Linked DNA regions of Homo sapiens: region 2 is linked to region 1. Evidence: fine-mapped expression QTL. A gene starts in region 1. The other region holds a variant in brackets. All regions are shown on one strand. Distances are from middle to middle. Region 1 holds the start of GLP2R (glucagon like peptide 2 receptor). Region 2 overlaps RCVRN (recoverin).

Region 1 (10,288 bases):
AAAGAAGTAAACATCTTTAATGGCACCATAACTGACTCTAAATCATTTTTACAAATTCAGCAGATGAGTTGCTAACCAAATAATAAGCTTCTAGAATCCTCCAAGTCATCAGTGTAAGATCCATTGGTGGACAAAGTACTATTTATGACCCCAGGGACCTCTCCGGGACCTGATTAAGGAAGAGACAATAAAATCAGCCTCTGGAGTAATGTTCCCCTATCCTCCATTCTTTGCCATGGCCAATGGCCATAGTCAAAAGCAGAAAAACAAACTAAAACTAAAAAGTACTGAATTTTGTCAGTCTAGGAGAGCTGGACAAACTCAGACTGTCTTCCCTTGCCCTAAAGACATAAAAAACACAAGGGGTACATCCAAGTTCAATCACAGCCAGATTCCCAAAGTCATGAGGAAAGAAGATATACGGGTGAATTTTTTTCCAACTGGAAAAGTCCAGCTTGACCTTGATTCCTTTTCCCTTGCATAGGCAACCAGCATCAGCAACGAACTTGGCCGAGAAGGGATTAAGGAAAAGGAAAGAAAAATCCTTATACTGACTCTCTTTAAATAAATCTGTTTTTCTTTGTTAGAGAAGGAATACACTTCACTGTAGATGAAATAGAAATCACAGCTATGCAAAAAGGGGAGAAGGTGAAATTATCATCTCATTACTCAGAAATTACCATCTACTTCCAGATTCTTCTCTCTGTGAATGAAAGACACATTCATTGTCTTTCTTTTCTTTTTTATTGTGACTTCAAAGGGAATAATCTTGTTTCAAAGCCTTTTATGTTTCATTAGAAGACCAATATTGTGAATATATTTCCATTTCAAGAAATAAATAATAAATGAAGTAAAGCATCCTTTTAACAGCTACATAACATTCTATGAAAAAAAGTGATATAATTTAGTTTTTAAATCCTCTAGCGTTGAATGCCTATGTTGTTTTAAGATGTTTGCTGACGTAAATGATGCTGTGATTAAAATCCTCATAGTTGAACATTTGAGAGCACATCTTTATTTCTTAGAAATTCTTTGAATTTGAATTTCTGGGTCACAGAATGCACATAGTTTTAAAGGTTTTTGACTGCCAAACTGTCTACCCTCACCAAAAAAAAAAAAAAATTAAAAATTTTAAATATGCACCATTTTACCCTCCTGCCATCCATGTATAAAAGGGCCGCAATGTACTTCTCAAAAATCCTTAGATAGTTTATGTTTTTGATGCCAAAGCAACTGCTAAATAACTTAAACGAGTGTGGGAGAGAGTGGTGTGGGGATAACACTACCTCCCTGCTTGAATTTAGAAACTAAACTATCCCTGAGAATTTCTCATTAAGTGAAATTTTTGAAGACTTCCTGCCAGAACACACACCACAGTCATTTATATTCCATGCAGGGAAAGAGGCTATGAGCAGAATTTATCATGAAAGTCTTCACAAAGCCTTGTAATATAAACATCTAGAAAAGGAATATGGGGTTAAGATGGAGAACCAAGAGTAAGGCCATCAGAATTACAGACACACCCGGAGGACAGACAGCCAGAAATGCTCTGAAAACGCAGACTGGGTGGCAGAGAGTGGAAGCAGACACTGCCAGCAGACATGTTATTGATTATAAAAATACCAGACTGAAAGGGTCAAGGTGTGGCTTTCTCAGCCTGGTAAGCCGGCCCGAGGCTCTGCAGATTCCGCTGTTGTAACATAAATATTCATACATCAGCAACTCCCAAGAGCACTCCGGAAGAAAAAACACAGGGCTTCAAACACCCCGGGTAGGCACAACGGCTACAGTGCTCAGGAGCTACAGCATCGAACGCAACCATTTAACTCCTCTGAAGCTTAATTTGCCCATCTGTAAAAGGGGCTCAGTAATAACACTCTTCTCAGAGGCTTGTGTTGAGGATTAAGTAAGATGATGTGTGAGGAAGCATTTTATGATAATATCCTGAGCGCTGTCTCAGGGCTTGGCATGTGGTCAGCAATCCACATTTGTGAACAAAACTACATGATAAGCTGGATACACTCACTCAGTGTTGATATGAGATATCCAGAGAATGGAAGCAAGGATGAATGTTCTGAACCAACCCTCCCACCAAATGGTCCCACCACTAACACATTGAAGTCCTGGGACCAGAGGCAGGCCAGGGCCACCTTCCTGAAGGATGTTCTGGTCACTGGGGGAGAGGCTGCCAAGATGGCAAGAATTCCATGAAACCATTGATTGGGCTCACATTTACAATCCATGAGGGCCTGAAGGCAGCCTCTAGGGGAACCTGGATGTAGGAAATCTGGCAGGGGTTATCTGCCTGTCTAGCCCCAGGCTTGCAACAAAGAAAGCCTGAGGTGAACCCTCATGAGACCTGGTACCACAGCCTGCCCTACATGGGGATTGGAGGGGTTTAGAATTCCAAGACCATGAACAGGGACTCACCCTGCCCATGGAACGAAGGAGGAAGACAGCCATTCCTTTTTTTTTTTTTTTTTTTTGAGACAGATCCTCACTCTACTGCCCAGACTGGAGTGCAATGGCGTGATCTTGGCTCACTGCAACCTCCACCTCCAGGTTCAAGCAATTCTCCTGCCTCAGCCTCCTGAGCAACTGGCATTACAGGCACACACCACCATGCCCAGATAATTTTTGTATTTTTTAGTACAGACGGGGTTTCACCACGTTGGCCAGGCCGGACTTGAACTCCTGACCTTGTGATCTGCCCACCTCAGCCTCCCAAAGTGTTGGGGTTACAGGCGTGAGCTACCGTGCCCAGTCTGAGCCATTCCTTAAGCTACTTTCGTTATTCAGACAAGTGGAACTGGGGTTCCTTCCCATCATCCTTTTATACTGCCCATAGCCCAGTATCCAAATGGAAACTTGGAAAGAGGACGAAGGTCTAATCTTCTTGGATAGAATAAAGCAAGCTACCAGCATGCCCAACGATAGAGGATAGTTAAAGACATTACAATAAACCCTTAAAGCCCTTAAATATTATACCATGGATCTACATTTACTAACATGGACGAATGTTGCTCAACTTCTCCGAGACTCAGTTTACTCATCTGTAAAAGGGGATTAACAAGAGAACCTCAGTCTATAGGGTTGCTGAGAACACAGAAGGAGAAAATATGAGGAACGGGGGCACCTGGCACTCAACCCAGTGCAGAGCAAGTGCTCCATAGTGATGTCAGCTGTGTTATTAGTGTATTTTGTTATGAAGAAAGCAGATTACAAAATAATATTTATAGTATGTGCCTGTGTTTGTTTAAAAAAAAAAACTGTATGTAGGCCTGGTACAGTGGCTCATGCCTATAATCTCAGCACTTTGGGAGGCCGAGGCGGGTAGATCACTTGAGGTCAGGAGTTCAAGACCAGCCTGGCCAACATGGTGAAACCCCATCTCTACTAAAATACAAAAATTAGCCGGGTGGTGGCACGTACCTGTAATCCCAGCTACTCAGGAGGCTGAGGCAGGAAAATCACTTGAACCCGGGAGGCAGAGGTTGCAGTGAGCCAAGATCTCACCACTGCACTTCAGCCTGGGCGACAGAGCGAGACCCCATCTCAAAAAACAAACAAACAAACAAACAAAAAACTGTATGCAAACAATGGTAGAAAAATGTCTGGAAGTATAAGCCCCCAAATGTGAATGAGGATGATCTGCAGCTGTTGGAAGTAGAGTGATTTGTAGTTTGCATTTCACTTCTTTGAATTGTATTTTAAAAAAACAATTAGCGTTCAACATTTTTGTAATGAAAGGAAAAAGGAAACAGAAGGGAAAGGAAAGGAAAGGAAAAAGAAAAATGGATTTGCTCAACCTAAATACTCAAAGCTGGGAGAATACTGAAGACAAACAGAAGGATATGTGCAGCAATTGTAAATGCTATTTGCAGAACTCACATTGACGTGGGGAAATGCTTATAATATGATGCGGGGCTGGTTGGGGGGACCAGGACACAACATGTTTTATGCTTCCTAATATCAGCTGTTGTAAAAAAAAACAAATGCATAGAGAAAAGGTTTGAGGACAATATGCCAAAATATGAACAGTGATTACCTTTGAATGCTAGGATTATGGCGGCTCATTATTTTCTTAATACTGTTTTCTCTTTTCCAAATTGCTTACATGAGGCCTAAATTGCTTCTTTAAAAAAAAATCAGGAAATACAACTGATAATAATAATAATAATGAACTGCTCTTACTTGCTTGATGGAAACCAGCAGGACCAGAGTGAGGAAGGGCCTCCCAGGGGCCCAGAGAGAGCACTTCCTGTGGAAGGAGAGAGGACTGGTCCCCCAGGGGGCAGGGATGCCCATGGGCAGCTCGTGGACGCCAGGCAGGAGTCCCGCGCTTCCTCTCCCAGGCCCTGCCCTGCTCGATCCCAGCTTCATCTTCCTCGTGCACCTTCACAAGTAGGGGTACATCTCTCTAGCCGTCCAAGATGCACCGCAGGCAGCCTCCTCTTGCATTCCTCTTGGTCCACAGAGGAAATGTTTGCACAAATCCTCTCCACGCTGCGCCGAGAGTGTCTGAGGCGGTCTAGAGCAATCTACGGAGTCTTCAGAGTTCCTTCTCGGCCCTGGCTCATCCCCCGCCCCTGCCCCCCCAAAAGCAGGGAGATTTTTCCCAGACCTTCCCTAAGTCAGCTGTGCTTTCTGGGACTTCCTTGACAGGCTGAGGAGAAAGAACAAGGCGGTCAGCGGGCTCCACCCTGAAGGTTCTGCTCAATGCACGAAGCTGGCTGAGACAGGCTGGGGTTCGAGCTACAGAGGAATGGCTGGCAGAAGGCGATGGGGCTCGAGCCAGTTTAGAGGCAGGTGTCTTTTTGAGGCAGGGTATTTCTTTCTAAGGCATTAAGCTTGTCCAGGCTGGGCTGAGGCTAACCACAAAGGCAAAATCTCCTCTGGGTCCTGTTTATGCAGAGACTGCAGGAGAGGTGGTTGCTCAGCTCAGGAGAGAACAGCTCCCAGCCCAGGCCATGAAGCAAAAACCCAATCAGCGGCGTAGGTTATGCCTACACAATAGCAAAACAGTGTGTTGAAAAGTGCAACATTCACTCATCTTGAATGCCCACTTGTTCTAAGCACATGTGGCTCAGCCCACCTGACAGACCCTTTTATGGAATTGATGATACATCACTTACTAACCAGCACAGGAGTAGGCTGTCCCCACAACTCACATTGACAACGTCTTTTAACCCACCATCCTATTTCGCACATCCTGACAATAACCCCATGAGGATACGATGAATTCTCCATTTGACAGCTGAGAAACATTGAGGCTCAGAGAGGTTGGATGGCTTGCCCAAAGCCACACAGCAAGTAAACAGCAGAACCGGATAGGCAGGTCTTCTGACCAGAGTTGCTTGAGCACAGGTACTTGGGAGGGTGCCCTGTCCTGCCCCTGCCCTCTCCGGTGAGTTCTTAGCAGGCTCATCGCCATGCCTCCCAAAGGCTCTGCTTGGAACTTCTTACTCCACCTCTCCCAGGCCAGCTCCCAGCGTCCCTGCAATGTCTCCCAGCCTCCCAAATTGGAGGCCCAGGTGGAAGATGTCTTGATTGGTTGGAACAGTGAGTCAGCAAGAGGCAAGAAGAACATGTTTTCACTTCGTTTTTGGTTTTGTTTTTGTGTTATTTTTTCCTTCCCTCTTCAAGTCAAACATAGGAACTCATCCTGGGTAACTTTTCAACTGAATGAATTCTGAACAGTTGGGAAAAGCAGCCATGCTTTTCTTAATAGACATCCCTAAAAATCTTAAAAACTCCATGTGACAAGATTTTAGACCTTAACAATGAAAAGCTCAACTAGAACAAAGACCCTAGAAATGGACTCAGAGTGGTGTCACCTCTGGAATTGACGTGGTCATCTCTCTGGGATGGCAGAGAGCAGGATGGAGTGACCCAGAGGGAGAAAGTACCCAAGGGATGGACTTTGGTCATTGAATGTGGCTGCAACTCCGTTCTGTGAGTGCTCATTAAAGATCATCTTCCAAGTTGCATGCTGGAAAATGGTCTGTCTTTAAAGAAAATACCTGCTTTGCAAGAATATTCCATCTCATCTCTTGCAACTTTTTCTCAAAAACATCCTTTATTTCTGAAGGGATGAAAGTTGGGGGCCACACACGACTTCCCCACCCATTGGCTGGTTGCCCTCTAGCGATGGAACTTAGTAAGGCCTCTTCCCTTGAGACTGGACACCCCACCAGGCCAGTGAGAGCACAGGACACAGGTGCCCAGACTCGGCCAGCGGCAAAGTATAGATGGAGTGATATTAACCCAGTATCACTGTCTAGCCCAGGCACATAGATTCCAGATTCTGTCTGGGGGGTATTCAGGAGGTGTCTAACACATCATCAAGAGCCTGTGTGTTTTCAGGATGCTCTGCAGAATCTTCTGCCCTCACACCTTCATCAGTGTCCTCTGCCCGAGGAGTTCCTTAAAAATCTTCAGCATCACTGCTCCTGCCAGTGCCCCGTTCAGTGAGGGCCTGAGCGATGGTGCCCAGGGTTCTGTCTTCTAGCATCTGCGGGCCCCTGGCCTCAGAACCCTGCAGCCAAGTGGGATACATGCTGCCCTCCCCATTCTGCACAGCACCTTGGCCCTGAGGTAGCCTGCCTGTACCTCGCATCACCCAGCATCCCTGGAACAAGCATCTGTTTTCCGTAGTCCTTCTCTACATAGAGCTGGACAAGAAACAGGCCTATGAAGTCCTTGGGATTCCCTGATTCCGGAATCCAACACTAAGGACCTGCTCCATGCAAAAGGCAATGGTGAGGCTGTCTCACCAAGACAGCCACCCAAACAGCCCCTGGTCTTCCATCAAAACCAGCACCCTCCACAACAGCCAAAAGGTGGAAAAAACCCAGGTGTCTGAATAGATGAACAAAATGCTATCCAACAAACACAGGGAATATTATTCTGCCTTGAAAAAGGAAGGACATTCTGACACATGCTACAACATGCATGAAGCTTGAGGACATTATGCTAAGCGAAGTAAGCAAGTCACAAAGGGACGGATACTGTATGAGTGCACTTACAGGAGGCACCTAGAGTAGTCAAATTCATAGAAACAGAGAGAAGAATGGTGGCTGCCAAGCAGAGGAGGAAGGGCAATGGGAGTTGTGTGATGGGTACAGATGATGAAAGATGAAAAGAGTTCTGGAGGTGGATGGTGGTGATGGTTGCACAACACTGTGAGCGTAGTTAATGCCACTAAACTTTGCACTTAAAAATGGTTGAGATGCCAGCCTGACCAACATGGTGAAACCCCGCCTCTACTAAAAATACAAAAATTAGCCGGGTGTGGTGACGTGCGCTTGTAATCCCAGCTACTCTAGAGGGTGAGGCAGGAGAATCACTTGAACCCGGGAGGCGGAGGTTGCAGTGAGCCAAGATTATGCCACTGCACCCCAGCCTGGGCGACAGAGTGAGACTCCATATCAAAAAAAAAAAAAAAAAAAAAAAAGATTGAGATGGCCAAGTGTGGTGGCTCATGCCGGTAATCCCACACTCTGGGAGGCCGAGGCAGGTGGATCACCTGGGGTCAGGAGTTTGAGAACAGCCTGGCCAACATGGTGAAACCCCGTCTCTACTAAAAATACAAAACTTAGCCGGGCATGGTGGCGGGCACCTGTAATCCCAACTACTTGGGAGGCTGAGGTAGGAGAATCACTTGAACCCAGGAAGTGGAGGTTGCAGTGAGCCAAGACGGTGCCACTGCACTCCAGCCTGGGTGACAGAGTGAAACTCTGTCTCAAAAAAAGAAAAAAAAAAGGTTGAGATGGTTAATTTCATGTTATGTGTGTTTTACCACAATTTAAAAACAATGCCCTCTGGCTGGGCACGGTGGCTCACGCCTGTAATCCCAGCACTTTGGGAGGCCGAGACAGGTGGATCACGAGGTCAGGAGATCGAGACCATCCTGGGCATCATGGTGAAACCTCCTCTCCACTAAAATACAAAAAATTATCCCAGCATGGTGGCATGCACCTGTGGTCCCAGCTACTTAGGAGGCTGAGGCAGTGGAATCACTTGAACCCGGGAGGCAGAGGTTGAGGTGAGCCAAGATCATGCCACTGCACTCCAGCTTGGGCAACAAGAGAGAAACTCCATCTCAAAAAAACAAACAAACAAACAAACAAAAAAAAACAATGCCCTCCCGCACACCTACCTCCTGGGGAGAATGGCAGGGCCAGCACCCTTGACAGGAACGTGCCCCGGCTCTGTGCCTCTGGATCTGGTGTGGCAGCACGTGCAATTCTCCAGGGGGACGTGAGAGGAGGCTGTGTGAGGATGCCAGATGGCAGAGCTGAGGGGCAGGTACCGTGACGAGGCAGGAGGAGGGGGCCCCACAGCTCATCCTGCCCCACGCACCTCACTCAGCCATGGACAGGGCCAAGCAGCAGCAGGCGCTGCTCCTCCTCCCTGTCTGCCTCGCCCTCACCTTCTCCCTCACCGCCGTGGTCAGCAGCCACTGGTGTGAGGGGACCCGACGGGTGGTGAAGCCACTGTGCCAGGACCAGCCGGGAGGGCAGCACTGCATTCACTTCAAACGGGACAACAGCAGCAATGGCAGGATGGACAACAATAGCCAGGCTGTCCTGTACATTTGGGAGCTGGGTGATGACAAGTTCATTCAGCGGGGGTTCCATGTGGGGCTCTGGCAGTCCTGCGAGGAGAGCCTCAACGGTGAAGGTGAGCAAAGCCTGTAGATTCTGGGGAAGACAGGTGCGGGATGGGGCAGGGGCTCTGGAGCCAGGCTGTCTGGGTTTGAATCCTGCAGATTCTGGGGGTAACAGGTGCGGGATGATGCAGGGGCTCTGGAGCCAGGCTGTCTGGGTTTGAATCCTTCATCTCCACTGATTGTCTAGGTATCCTTGAATAAGTCCCTTCACCTCTCTGAGCCTCAGTTTTCTCATCTGTAAAATGGGAATGATAGCAGTACTTACCTCCAAGAGTGATTGTAAAGATGAAATGACCAGATTCACATACAGAGCTTGCAACAGGGCCTGACACATTGCAAGTGTTTATTAAAATTAGTTTCTCGTTTGTTCTTGTCACTGAATCCCTGGTATTTAAAATCCTTTGGGAATGAAAGGTGGTCCCGACCCAACTCGAAGGTGCATCCCTGTTATTTATCCTGCACTTGGAATGATCTTGGAGTGAATCTTTAAAAACAGAAGTGTTTTTACCTCTCAAAGAATTGAGGAGGGAGGAATTTGACTCTTCCATATTTGGCAGCCTGGCTGTAAGCCCGCGTTCAGGGACAGAGTACTCTTCCCTTTCTGCTTGGGACGCAAAACCTCCAAGGCAGAAAAAGGAGGAATCCTCCCATCCCCATTTCTTTCCTGACCTCAGCTTATTACAGTCAATTTCTTGCACAGTTTTTTAACTTTTTCTGGAGTTTCTAATTGCCTTTTCTTTTTCCATTCTCATAGCATTTGATTTTTGTTCCTGAGGCCTAAGTAAAAGGCAACAAGAATGAAGCCCCTGAGGCCCAGCCTGGTGGCTCATTCCTATAATCCTAGCACTTTGGGAAGCTGAGACAGGAGAATCACTTGAGACCAGGAGTTACAGACCAGCCTGGCAACATAGGCAACATAGTGAGACCTCTCTTTACAAAAGGTTTTTTTAAAAAATTAGCTGGACATGGTGGGGTGTGCCTGTGGTCCCAGCTACTCTGGGAGGATCACTTGAGCCTGGGAGGTTGAGGCTGCAGTGAGTCATCATCGTGTGACTGCCCTCCAGCCTGAATGATAGAGCGAGACCTGTCTCAAATTAAAAAAAAAAAAAAAGGAACACTCAGAGGTGCTGTATGTCCCTCCCTTCCACCCTCTCTCCCAGTGGTGGCCAATGTGGGGCAGTACCCAGCCTGACTGAACCTCCCATGTATCCAGGCCAGTGCCTGTGTCTTGTGCTTTAAGTGTGGTACAGACACTGCAATAGTGCCTGGAGCTAAGGCTATTTAGGACCTCCACAGTTCCTCGCTTCTCAGGGAGTGCTATCTTCCTATGAGTCTCTTCCCCACCTTCATGGACAGAGGCAAAAGTCTCAGGACCCTGCATCCTGGAGGATTTCCAAAACACTTCCAGAATTTTGGTTTGGAAACTGTATTCACCATACTTATAGGCAAATCACTTGGGAAATTCCATCTCCTTTCCAAGTTCTCATATGAGGACTGCCTATAGTACTTCTGTTTCCACAGCTCTATATAGGCGTCACACCAGTTATCAAATGTATCACCCAAGGAACTTGTAAAAGAAATATCCAGGTGCCCAGTCCTGGAGGTTCTAATTTA
Region 2 (10,288 bases), 73 kb before region 1:
AGTCACGTGCTGCACAGGTTTGTAGCCTAGGAGCAAAAGGCTGGACCATGGAGCTCAGGGATGTAGTCGGCTCTACCATCTGTGTTCGTGCAAGGATGCTCTATGATGTTCCCACATAGAAGTTGCCTTAAGATGTGTTTCTCGGAATGTATTCCTGTCTCTGAGCGACACGTGACTATATTTACATTTTTTCTTTCTCTCCATCCTTTGTTTCTTCCTTCCTTTATTAAAATGTCCTTTGAAATTTTCAGCAGTACACATTCAAGTTGAATCACTGTTCATTCTAAACACACAATATGCTTCTAATATAAAGTAGAAAGAGGTCAAAGTTGGGGGCATGAACTCTGAGTTCTAGTCCTCATGTTCTCCCCAGCGCGGGGCGGATCATGGCACCACGCATGAGCCCCCGCTTCCCACGCGCGGCGTGGCTCCCCGGCTCCTGACAGTTTCCCTGTGAGGCGCACAGGCTTCCATATGGTTCCCAACACGCCTTCTCCCCTGTCCATACTGTCCTCCTGTCAGATCCTTTGTTGTGAAAGTAATGGCAAAAACCATAATTACTTTTCCACTAACCTCGTAGGTGTCTTGAAAATGGTTTATCTGATATAAAAGTAACTCATGAAATTTAGAAACCTAGGCAAAAGAGACTAACAATTGCCTCTAATTCCAACATCCAGGGAAAACTTTTCTTAGTATATCAGTATATACCTTTTCAGTCTTTTACCTATATAATTTTAAATAATGTTAAAGCTATGACATATTCACATACGATTTTTTATCATACATTTTTCAGTTACTCTTTTATCATGAGTGCTTTCCATATCATTACATATTCTTCCAAAACACTTTTTTTTTTTCTTCAGACAGAGTTTTGCTCTTGTCGCCCAGGCTGGAGTGCAGTGGCGTGATCTCAGCTCACTGCAACCTCCCCCTCCTGGGTTTGAGCAATTCTCCTGCCTCAGCCTCACGAGTAGCTGGGATTACAGGCACCTGCCCAGCTAATTTTTGTATTTTAGTAGAGACGGGGTTTCACCATGTTGGCCAGGCTGGTCTCGAACTCCTGACCTCAGGTGATCTGCCCGCCTCGGCCTCCCAAAGTGCTGGGATTACAGGCGTGAGCTTCCGCACCCAACCTCTTCCAAAACTCTTTTAATAGCTGCTTGGAATTCTGGCTTATGGAAATGTGGAAATTATTGAACATTCCTATGTTTTTGGACATTAGGTTGTTTCCATTTCTTTCCTATTATACCAGTTCTAATTTCCTTCATTTGATTTTTTTTTAATTTATTCTTTTTCAGTCCCCCTGCCCCTGCCACTTACCTTATTCTTCTAATTCCATTCCTGTTAGTAGAGACTATTGTTTAGATGTTAATAACTTTGTGTGCATTGGCAATCATGCTTTCATTTGCATGATGACAAATGCACAAAAATCTTCCACAGTTATTAGGAGAAATCATAAATAAAACAGCAGAGCATGCAGCTTGTGGTCCATGGGCTTATCCTCAATGCTCAGCTCGGGCCTCCCATTCTGGCAGGCATGTGTCTCTCTCATTGTTATCTTGGCACAGCCTGCAGAGAAAGCTCCCTCGGATTGGCTGTGGGGTCTCTGGGTGGCCTGGGACAGGGACTAAGTCTTCAGAGTGGCATAAACAATGCAGGGCCCAGCAGAAGCCTACAAATTGATACTCATTGAATAAAAGGAGGAGGAAAGGGAGGAGGGGGAAATGAGGGAGGGAGAGAGGGAAGGTAGGAGTCAGGAAGGAAAGAGGGGGAAGCAAGGGGAAGGAGAGAAGGAAGGGAGGGAGGAGAAGGAAAGGAGGAGAGAAAGGAAGAAAGAAGAAAGGAAAGGGAGGGAGGGAGACTCCATCAATGGCTGGGGCTGTGCAAGGTGGCAGAAGGCTCTGCTATTCACCAGATTACAAGTTCATGGGCAGAGCACTGACTGAGGGAGTTAAAAGTGAAGGGTTCTAGTCCCAGCTCTGACTCCAACTAGCAGTGTTGCTGTGGGAAAACCATATAACCTTCCTGGGCCCAGGGTGAGGATTTGATTATTTTTGCAGTCTTTCCTGAGGCTCTGGAGGTCTGTCCCTCCGTGTTGGAAGTGGGGTGGGCAGGCACTCACTGCCAGCTTCTAGCTGGCACACCTGCACATGGTGCCCAAGGCCCTGCACAGATGGATAGGAGTGTAGGAGCCACCTACACTGGCGTCCAGCTCAGGGCTTTGAGTGCTGCCAGCGACGCTGCTGCCCTGGGCTGTGGCTTTGGCCTCTTTACTCCTTTATCCAGCACCAGGGGGCTGAAGGGAAACTTCTCAAAGCTGTCGACCTTCCCTCCAGGATAATTTCACAGCCATTATTGCCCCTGCCTGACCTGCTCACAGGTGTCTCCGGGGAGGCAGAACGCAAATGGTTTGCGAATGTTTTCTCCCATTCCATAAGTTACATTTTGATTTTGTTCATTGTTTCCTCTGACATGGAGAAGCTCTTTAGTGTGATGCTATCCTGCTTGTTTATTCTGGTTTATGTTGCCTTTGCTTTTGGTGTCATATCCAAAAAATTATCGTCAAGACCAGTGCCAAGAAGCTTTTCCCCTACGTTTTCCTCCAGCAGTTTGACGGTCTGAGGTCTTATGTTTAAGTCTTTAATCCATTTTGAGTAGATTTTTGTGTACAGTGTAAGATGTGGATTTTCCAGGGTTGCCAGCCCCTTAAAGTTCCTCCTAACGAGTTCTTTCTTTCTGTTTGGTACAGGCTATTTTCAAAATGATCACTCCCGAGGACGTGAAGCTCCTTCCAGACGATGAAAACACGCCGGAAAAGCGAGCCGAGAAGATCTGGAAGTACTTTGGAAAGAATGATGATGGTGAATTCCTTTTCCTTCATTGCCTTTGATTTTTCAACCATGGGCTGTTTCCTGGAAATCCCAACAAGATTTATTCTTCTGAGTCACAGTGTCCAGGCAGGATGGGGGACACCTCATTCCATTGTGCATTTTCAGAGCTGTTTGAAGGGTTGGACAGGGGAATGGCCTTAAGGGTGAGCAGGAGCCAAAACTGTTTTCTGTGCAATTAGAACAAGAGCAAACTTCAGCTCACCCTAGCTTTGAATTAATATCGAGTCCCAAGTCAGTGGGATCTGTATTTCTATGGTTTTACTTTGGGAAGTTGGTTTGGGTCCTCTGAGAAACACCACCAAGATAGGATTAGATTTAAATGAGATTGCAAGAGATTTATGGGAGGAAAGGCTGAAGAAGGAAAACAGGCTGGGATCGAGAGGAGGCTGGGAAAGCTATCAGACTGCCAAGCAGATCTGACCCCTGGCAGGGAGAGAGGGAAAGAAAGGAAGGTTAGGAAAGAAAGGAAGGTTAGGAAAGAAAGGAAGATTAGGTAAGTAATGCCCGAGACTGCAGTGCAGTCTGAGGAAGTGTTGACAGAGTCGATGGGGTGTCCTCAGTGCCCCTGTCAGTCTTGGTGCCCCTGCCCTGTCAGTCAGTGGCTGGAAGCAGCCCCCAGGAAGTGTGATCCTGCACTGTAGGCAGTGATGGACTCCAGCACTCGGCTGCTGGGGCTGTGTGTCTGTGATGCTTACGGCCAGCACAAGGATGCGGTAAAGGAGCTGGTATTAGGCTGGGGCTGCAAACACATATGGCTGGAGGGGCAGGAATGATGAAAACGAGTTATGTGGACAGTCATCTACAAGCAGTGGGGATTGGCAAACAGCAGAGGGTGCACCTCTGGTCTGATGGCTTCCAGCATATTCCATGTGGGGCTATGGAACCCGTGGTTGAGACATCATCTGATTTTTTTTTAAGAGAAGCCAGCCATGAAGACTTTAAAAATCCAGTGTGTCTCAACTGATAAAACACAGCATGGCCCAAACACATCCAAGGGTCCTGTATTAACCCCTTTGGTGACCTCTGGAGGCAGTCTTCTGCCAAGGTTCAAGAAGAAAAAGCTGAGCAGGATGCTAAATAAGGGCAGAGAGAGATGACCCTGCTCCTCCTAATCTGCCAACAAATGATGAAATAAGAGAAGCATGAAGGTCATTGGGGTAGGAGGAACATAGGACACAGAATTTAAGGAGGCGCTCGTTCTCAGGGGTCAACAATGCACTCACAGGACCTGAAAGTGAGCGCCTCCTTAAATTCGCGCCTTGGTACTTTACCCACCTTTCCCTCATCGGCCCGGATTGGCCCCTCACCTTTGAGCACTCTCTCCTCCTTGCACAGACACTGGCTACCAAGATGCCTTCTTTTGGCACTTTGCCCCACTGGCTCCTTAACTGGCTTCGCGACCTCCCTCTGGGTCCGTTCATGTGTCGAGCCCTGTGTTCTGCTTTTTGCTCATCTGAAAACCTCCCTGGTGAACATCCCGGGAGGGGATGACGTCAGAAGCCCCGAGGTCGACGTGTTACTCCTGTTCGTGATGTGTTGTACGTGTTTCCACGCGGCCCATCTGGAGACAATGCCTCAGGGCAGAGTCAGGCTTTGATGGTGGGAGTTTCAAGCTCTCTGTGAGCTCTCTGTGGGGTGGCTGGGATGTTAAAACCCAAATTTTACCACCCAGACTTGCGGAGGAAGCCATCCTGGATCCTAACCCAGAAGGGATTAAAGGTATCCAAAAGGCCCAGAGCATAAGTCAGAAATCACATTCAGTTCAGCAAAGCTTTGTTGAGCACCGACTCTGTGCTAGGCACTGTGAACATACAACAGAAAGGAGCATCTGTCTCATGCTAGAGGTATTTCTGCGTGTGACTGCCTTCCCCGCCAGGTCAACAGTTTCCCAGGGAGGGACTTCATCTCACTCTCTTCTATTGTACACCCCGCCTCCGCTCCCTGTGGTGGCCTTGGCTCCAAGCACAGTGGCATCTGGGCTCAGGACCATGCATTTAACTGGACTGATCTGAATACAGTTAGCCACCTGATTAAAAACACCGGAAAACCAGGTGTGGGCGCAACAAGGCTGTCTCTCAGTCCTGATCCCAAATAAGGAGGCAGATGAGACTGGGGGACGCAGGGATGGATGCATAGGAAGGGATCATGGCGGAGTTGTCAGCCAGGAATCATGGGGCTGCCTGTGTGCTGCAGGTGCCAAAGAGACCTCTCTGCAAGCCACACTCCCCCTGGCATGATCTCATTGGGCCCTTCACTTCTCACTCCTATTTCTGGAGGGATGTTGTTCCCTGCTTCTCAGCTGAGACTCTGGGCCTGACATCCAGATTGTTTTGCTATGCTCAGACCCCCAGAAGCTCCTCCTGAACTTGATCCTTGAAACTTGAGCTACTATAGAAAATAGAATAACAATTAATAGTTATTAATTATTGAAGTATTTAATAACCAGCAAGGCAGGGGCACCGGCCAATCGGAAGAGACACATAGCACAAGACTGGCATCTTGGGGGCCCCCCCAGTGCCAGTCATTCACCGCTCTTTGCTGGTCT[G/C]CAGGGAGCTCCAAGGGTCATGGGAAAGGAGGTGGGTATCTGGACTGGGGTGGGGGAATATTGAATACTCAGGGCCACTGAGTATTCAATATTCTTATAATAGATACATTCACACTGGGGATACTGGCTAGATGTCAGCCTCATCGCAGCTCACTTGGCTATCAATCCTGACTGTTTTATGTACGTATATATTTTTTCCCAATGCACAGATAAACTTACAGAGAAAGAATTCATTGAGGGGACACTGGCCAATAAGGAAATTCTGCGACTGATCCAGTTTGAGCCTCAAAAAGTGAAGGAAAAGATGAAGAACGCCTGATGCCAACTGTTCAGCTGTCCTCCCTCCACCTACCACTCACATGACACCCGTGAGCGCCTGTGCACACACACACACATGCACACACACGCGCGCGCACACACACACACACACATCCACCCCAGGGCCAAGAGAAAGGCCTGCACACAAGCCCACAGCACAGCTCCCTGCCAAACTGAAGCATCTGTAGTGACCCACTGGTTCCTTCTTCCTGGGTCTTCAGCATTCCCTCCCATCATGCCCGGTCCCACCCCTCCCTCTGTCCACCAGCCCATGGCCCTGTGCTAATCCCAGGATTAGGCCATAGGAGTCCTAAGTGTCACCCCGCTGTAAGCTCCTTTGTGGAGTGCTGGGTAAGCAGTTTCCAATAAACGCAAGCTGAGCTGGGCACGTGGCTGCTGGTCATCCTTCAACTGGAAAAGGAAATGATTTCTATCAGTCACACCTCAAAGACAAGGCTGTGTTGCGATGGCAGCCCTAGGCTGGGCTGCTTTGGTGCGGAATGAGTCTAATGCGGTCCTGCTGTCATGGAGCTCATGGTCCAGAGGGGACAATGAACCTGGAAGGAGCCATGACCAGTGGCCCAGGTTACCATGGAAACGTGCAGAGCACCAGGGGAGGACACAGTGGAAGGGGCTGACTTGTCAGGGGGGATCAGGGACCACATCCCTGACGAAGGGAGATTTAAATTCAGAACCACTGCACACGAGGCGGGGGACGGGGTCGGGGTGGGGAAGTCTCAAACAGAAGGCGGCCAACACAGAGCCGCTGAGGCATGAATGACCATCTCGAGTTCCAGGAGAAGGTCGGGGTGGCTGGAGGGTAGAAGGAGGAGGGAGAGCAAAGTGTGAGCTGAATCTAAAAGGTAGGCGGGGGCTGGACCACGCAAAGCCCTCCCTGCAGCCTGTGGTAAGCACTTGGGGGCTCACCATGGGGACAGCGGTGCCACTGTGGAGTTGGAAGTAGGAGGGGTTTATGTTTGTAAGAGAAGTCCCCAGCAGGCTAAAATAAGTCAGAGAGGAGCAACTGGGGGCTCCCTGGAGTCAGGGAGCCCGATGAATAAGCTTTTGCAGCCACTCAGATGGCCTGGGCCAGGGGAAAGGCAATGGGATGGAGAGGACCAGATCCAGTGAGGACACATTTAGGAGGTAGCATCCACCTGGCTGGCTGAGGGGGCAGGAGGAGAGAGGGCAGGAATGGCAGCCAGGCCTGTAGCTTGGGCAGTGGGTGAATAGCAATGCCATCTATGGAGATGAGAAATACAGAGAGTCTTTGGGGTTTCAGGGAACAATGATGAATTCAGCTTCAATATAGTATGAGGTGAAGGCAGAGCCATAGATGGCCCTAAAGCCCCTTGTTTTAGAGACAAGGAAAAGGAGTCCCAATGACAGGAAGCAGCTTGCCCAAGGGCAGCCAGCTGATGAGCAGAGGTCAGGCAAGGGCTACCCACCGGCCCCCAACTGCCTCCTCAAAGCTCCAGGGCCTGGGATACCCAGGAACTCCATCAGTGCATTCTCCAAGATCCCTGGATTTGTTGCTTTGAAGGCCCATTTATTCTCCAGCCTCAAGTTCCAAGATGAGGTCAGAAAAATGCATGGATACCCTGGATTCTTGACTGACCTGTCTGCAACCTCTTGAGGCTGAGGAGTCTCTAGTTGCTGGTATTGTGGTGATGCCTCCAGACCCCACTTTAGCCACAGAGATGACACAATCACCACTGCCAAAGAGCACTCCTCTGTGTGGAGAGCAAACGTGAGAATAAACACTTATGAACCGTGCACCATGCTAGACTCTGCCATCATTATTTCATTGATGGAGATGTTATTATCTGCACAATACAGATGAGGATACTGAGGGCAGGAAGTGTGAGTAGGAGTTGGTACTTAAACTGGAGTCCCTTTGATTACACCAGATTTCTCCAATAGTTTTGACCTGGACACAGCAGGATAGAGAACTCTAGGATTGCACAATGTCAGAGATGGAAAGGGGAAGGAGGCTACAAGGCATGAGTCCAGAGGTTCTGGGAGGAGAAGGATTATTACTAGAATCATCTACCCAAGGCATTCTCCCATGTAGACATAGTGGGCTATATAGAAGCCAGTTCAGTGGGAGATAAAAGACTCTGTGGGTCCAGTCCAGAGTGTTCTAGGAATATAACCAAAGGGCTCAATGCTCTTTCCACCACACTCCATGAATGAATCTGGTTGCTTCGAGGATGAGGCTGGGGGCTTTTCACTTCTCTCTGAGGTCAGTCTATCATTGTCACTTGAGTCTAAAAGGACAGACACTGCATAATTAGGTCCTTGCTGGTTTGTGGTTCAATGGGAGAGCCAAAGAGTGAAAACCTAATTAGTGCCTCTTTTTTTAGCTTAGGGTGGAAGGACCACTTGGGCTGAGATTCTCTACAGCTGTATGACACTTTGTGGAAAATAAAGCATGAAGTTCAACTTGGCCACAGGGAAGAGGAGGTGGAGATAGTGATGAGCTATGTCATCAAGACTCTTCCAGATGCAAAAGGTAGATGACCTGGCACAAATTATTGTGGCACAAATAGAAATTGCTTGGCTCTTATAGCTGAAATTCTAGGAGTAGGGCTAGCTTCAGGTATGGCTTAATCCAGGGGCTCCAACAATGTCCCAGAGTTCATTTCTCCCTCTCCTGGTTCTGGTTTCTGCTGTCACCACCATTCTCAGACAGGTTCTTCCCATGCTGGCAGGACGGTCACCAGCAGATCCAGGCTGCCTTCTTCATGGTTCCAATTTCAGCAGAAAAGAGAAAATGCTTTCTCTTAAGAGTCCCAGCCAAAGTGTCAGGATTGCATCTCACTGTCTCTGGTTAGTTATATGCCCATGCCTGACTCAATATCTGATGCCAGAAGGATGTACTGCTCTGCTTGGCCAGCAGATTTTTATGCCCATCCTTGAACTGAGGATAGAGTCAGGACAACTCAAGTTCCGTGGACTGACAGTAGGAGATGAGTGGTTTTTCCAAGAGGAAAATTGGGGTACTATAAGAAGGGCAGATTCTAAAAATAGATGTCTACTATAGAGACCTTGGGGAAGTCATTTCCTGTCTCTAGATCCCTGACTCCTCAAGTACATGTAAATTCAAGGGCAGAAATGGGTCTCATTAAGAGCAATAATCCAAACTGCCTGAGCTTCTGTTGCCACCTGCCCACATAAGATCCCAGCCCCTTGTGCAGTGTCTCTTGGGCATTTTTAGCATCTCCAGGAGGTGTCCCACACAGATTCACCCATAGATCCCTTAGTGCCAGGTGCCATTGCTGCCCTCAAGTACTACGTTCCTAATCACAGGCGAGGCCACAGTGCTCCTAATGTACCCAAGCTGTGTGCTGATCTGCTGAGGAGCCTTCTAGGTTAGAGTCTATCAGAACAGCCCCATGGGAAGTAGCATGTGTCACGGAAACAGCTTTTGTCATTGCCTCCTGGAAACAGCTCTCCTAGCTTTTGTCTGAAGCTTCTCTTCTCTCACCAGGCTCAGACTCTGACCATGGAGCCAAGTGGGGTCAGCCGCCGTACTGCTGTCCACTTCACTCCCATTTCTGCCCCTTAATGGTTATATAAACTCATCAGACAAGCCCAAAAATGTCTGTGTCTCAGGCTCTTAGGCTCCAGCTGGATGACCACTCCTTAAAAAATAAAACTGGGCCAGCCACACCTACATTGCCTGTCACTTAAGAGTTGTGAGAATCAGTTGAGTCTGTGCTTGTGGAAGAATTTGAGCTCTAAATGCTACATGGGAGAAAGACTCAGTTTATTTGGACTTCGGCAAGGTATTGTCAGTTTCCAGAGGAGGGTTCACCTCCTTCCCCTCTGCCTCAGTTCCAATGTTCTCAACCTTGGTCCCATATTAAAGTCACACAGGTGGCGTTGATGCCAAAGCACGGGCAGCAAAAGAAAAACAAATAGACACATTGGACTTCAACAAAATTTAAAACTTTTCTACATAAAAGGGCACTATCAAGAGGCAAAAAGACAATCTACAGAATGAGAGAAAATATTTGCAAATAATAGATAAGGTATCCATATTCAGAATGCATAAAGAATTCCTGCAACTCAACAACAAAAAACAAACAATCCAATTGAAAAATGGGCCAAGAATTGAATAGATATTTTTCTAAAGAAGACTCACAAAGGACTAATCAGCAGGCACATAAAAAGATGCTTGACATCATTAGTCATTCCGGAAACGCAAATCAAAACCACAATGAGATACCATTTCACAGCCATTAGGAATGGTTATCATAAAAAAATAGAAAATAAATGTTGGCAAAGGCCATGGAGCATTTGGAATCCTCATGCATTGCTGGTGGGAATATAAAATGGCGCAGCTGTTGGGGAAAATATAGAATCACCATATGATTCAGCAGTTCCACTTGTAGGTATACTCAAATTTTTAAAACAGAAACCAGATGTTTATACATCCCTACCAATAGCAGCATTATTCACAATAGCCAAACATGGAAACAAGCCAAGTGTCCATCAATGGATGAACAGATAAACAAAATGTGGTATG

Evidence for each region. PIP is the estimated chance that this variant, and not a neighbour inherited with it, causes the effect. A credible set is the group of variants that fine-mapping cannot tell apart.
Region 2: its variant is the best candidate, but not a certain one, in a credible set for the expression of GLP2R in sigmoid colon (GTEx, PIP 0.78).

Annotation. Positions count from the first base shown.
Region 1 is chr17:9,820,159-9,830,446 of GRCh38, reverse strand. GLP2R (glucagon like peptide 2 receptor) reads right to left here and starts at 4,523. Exons shown (of 13, transcript NM_004246.3): 1 at 4,195-4,523. The coding sequence starts at 4,383. GSG1L2 (GSG1 like 2) reads left to right here and starts at 8,368. Exons shown (of 5, transcript NM_001310219.2): 1 at 8,368-8,685. The coding sequence starts at 8,376.
Region 2 is chr17:9,893,562-9,903,849 of GRCh38, reverse strand. It overlaps RCVRN (recoverin), which reads left to right. Exons shown (of 3, transcript NM_002903.3): 2 at 2,750-2,861; 3 at 5,646-7,530. The coding sequence ends at 5,755. Among named protein-coding and RNA genes, the nearest start is that of RCVRN, 6.6 kb to the left of the region's middle. RefSeq lists an enhancer at 4,301-4,802. The variant G/C (reference allele first, on the strand shown) is at 5,437.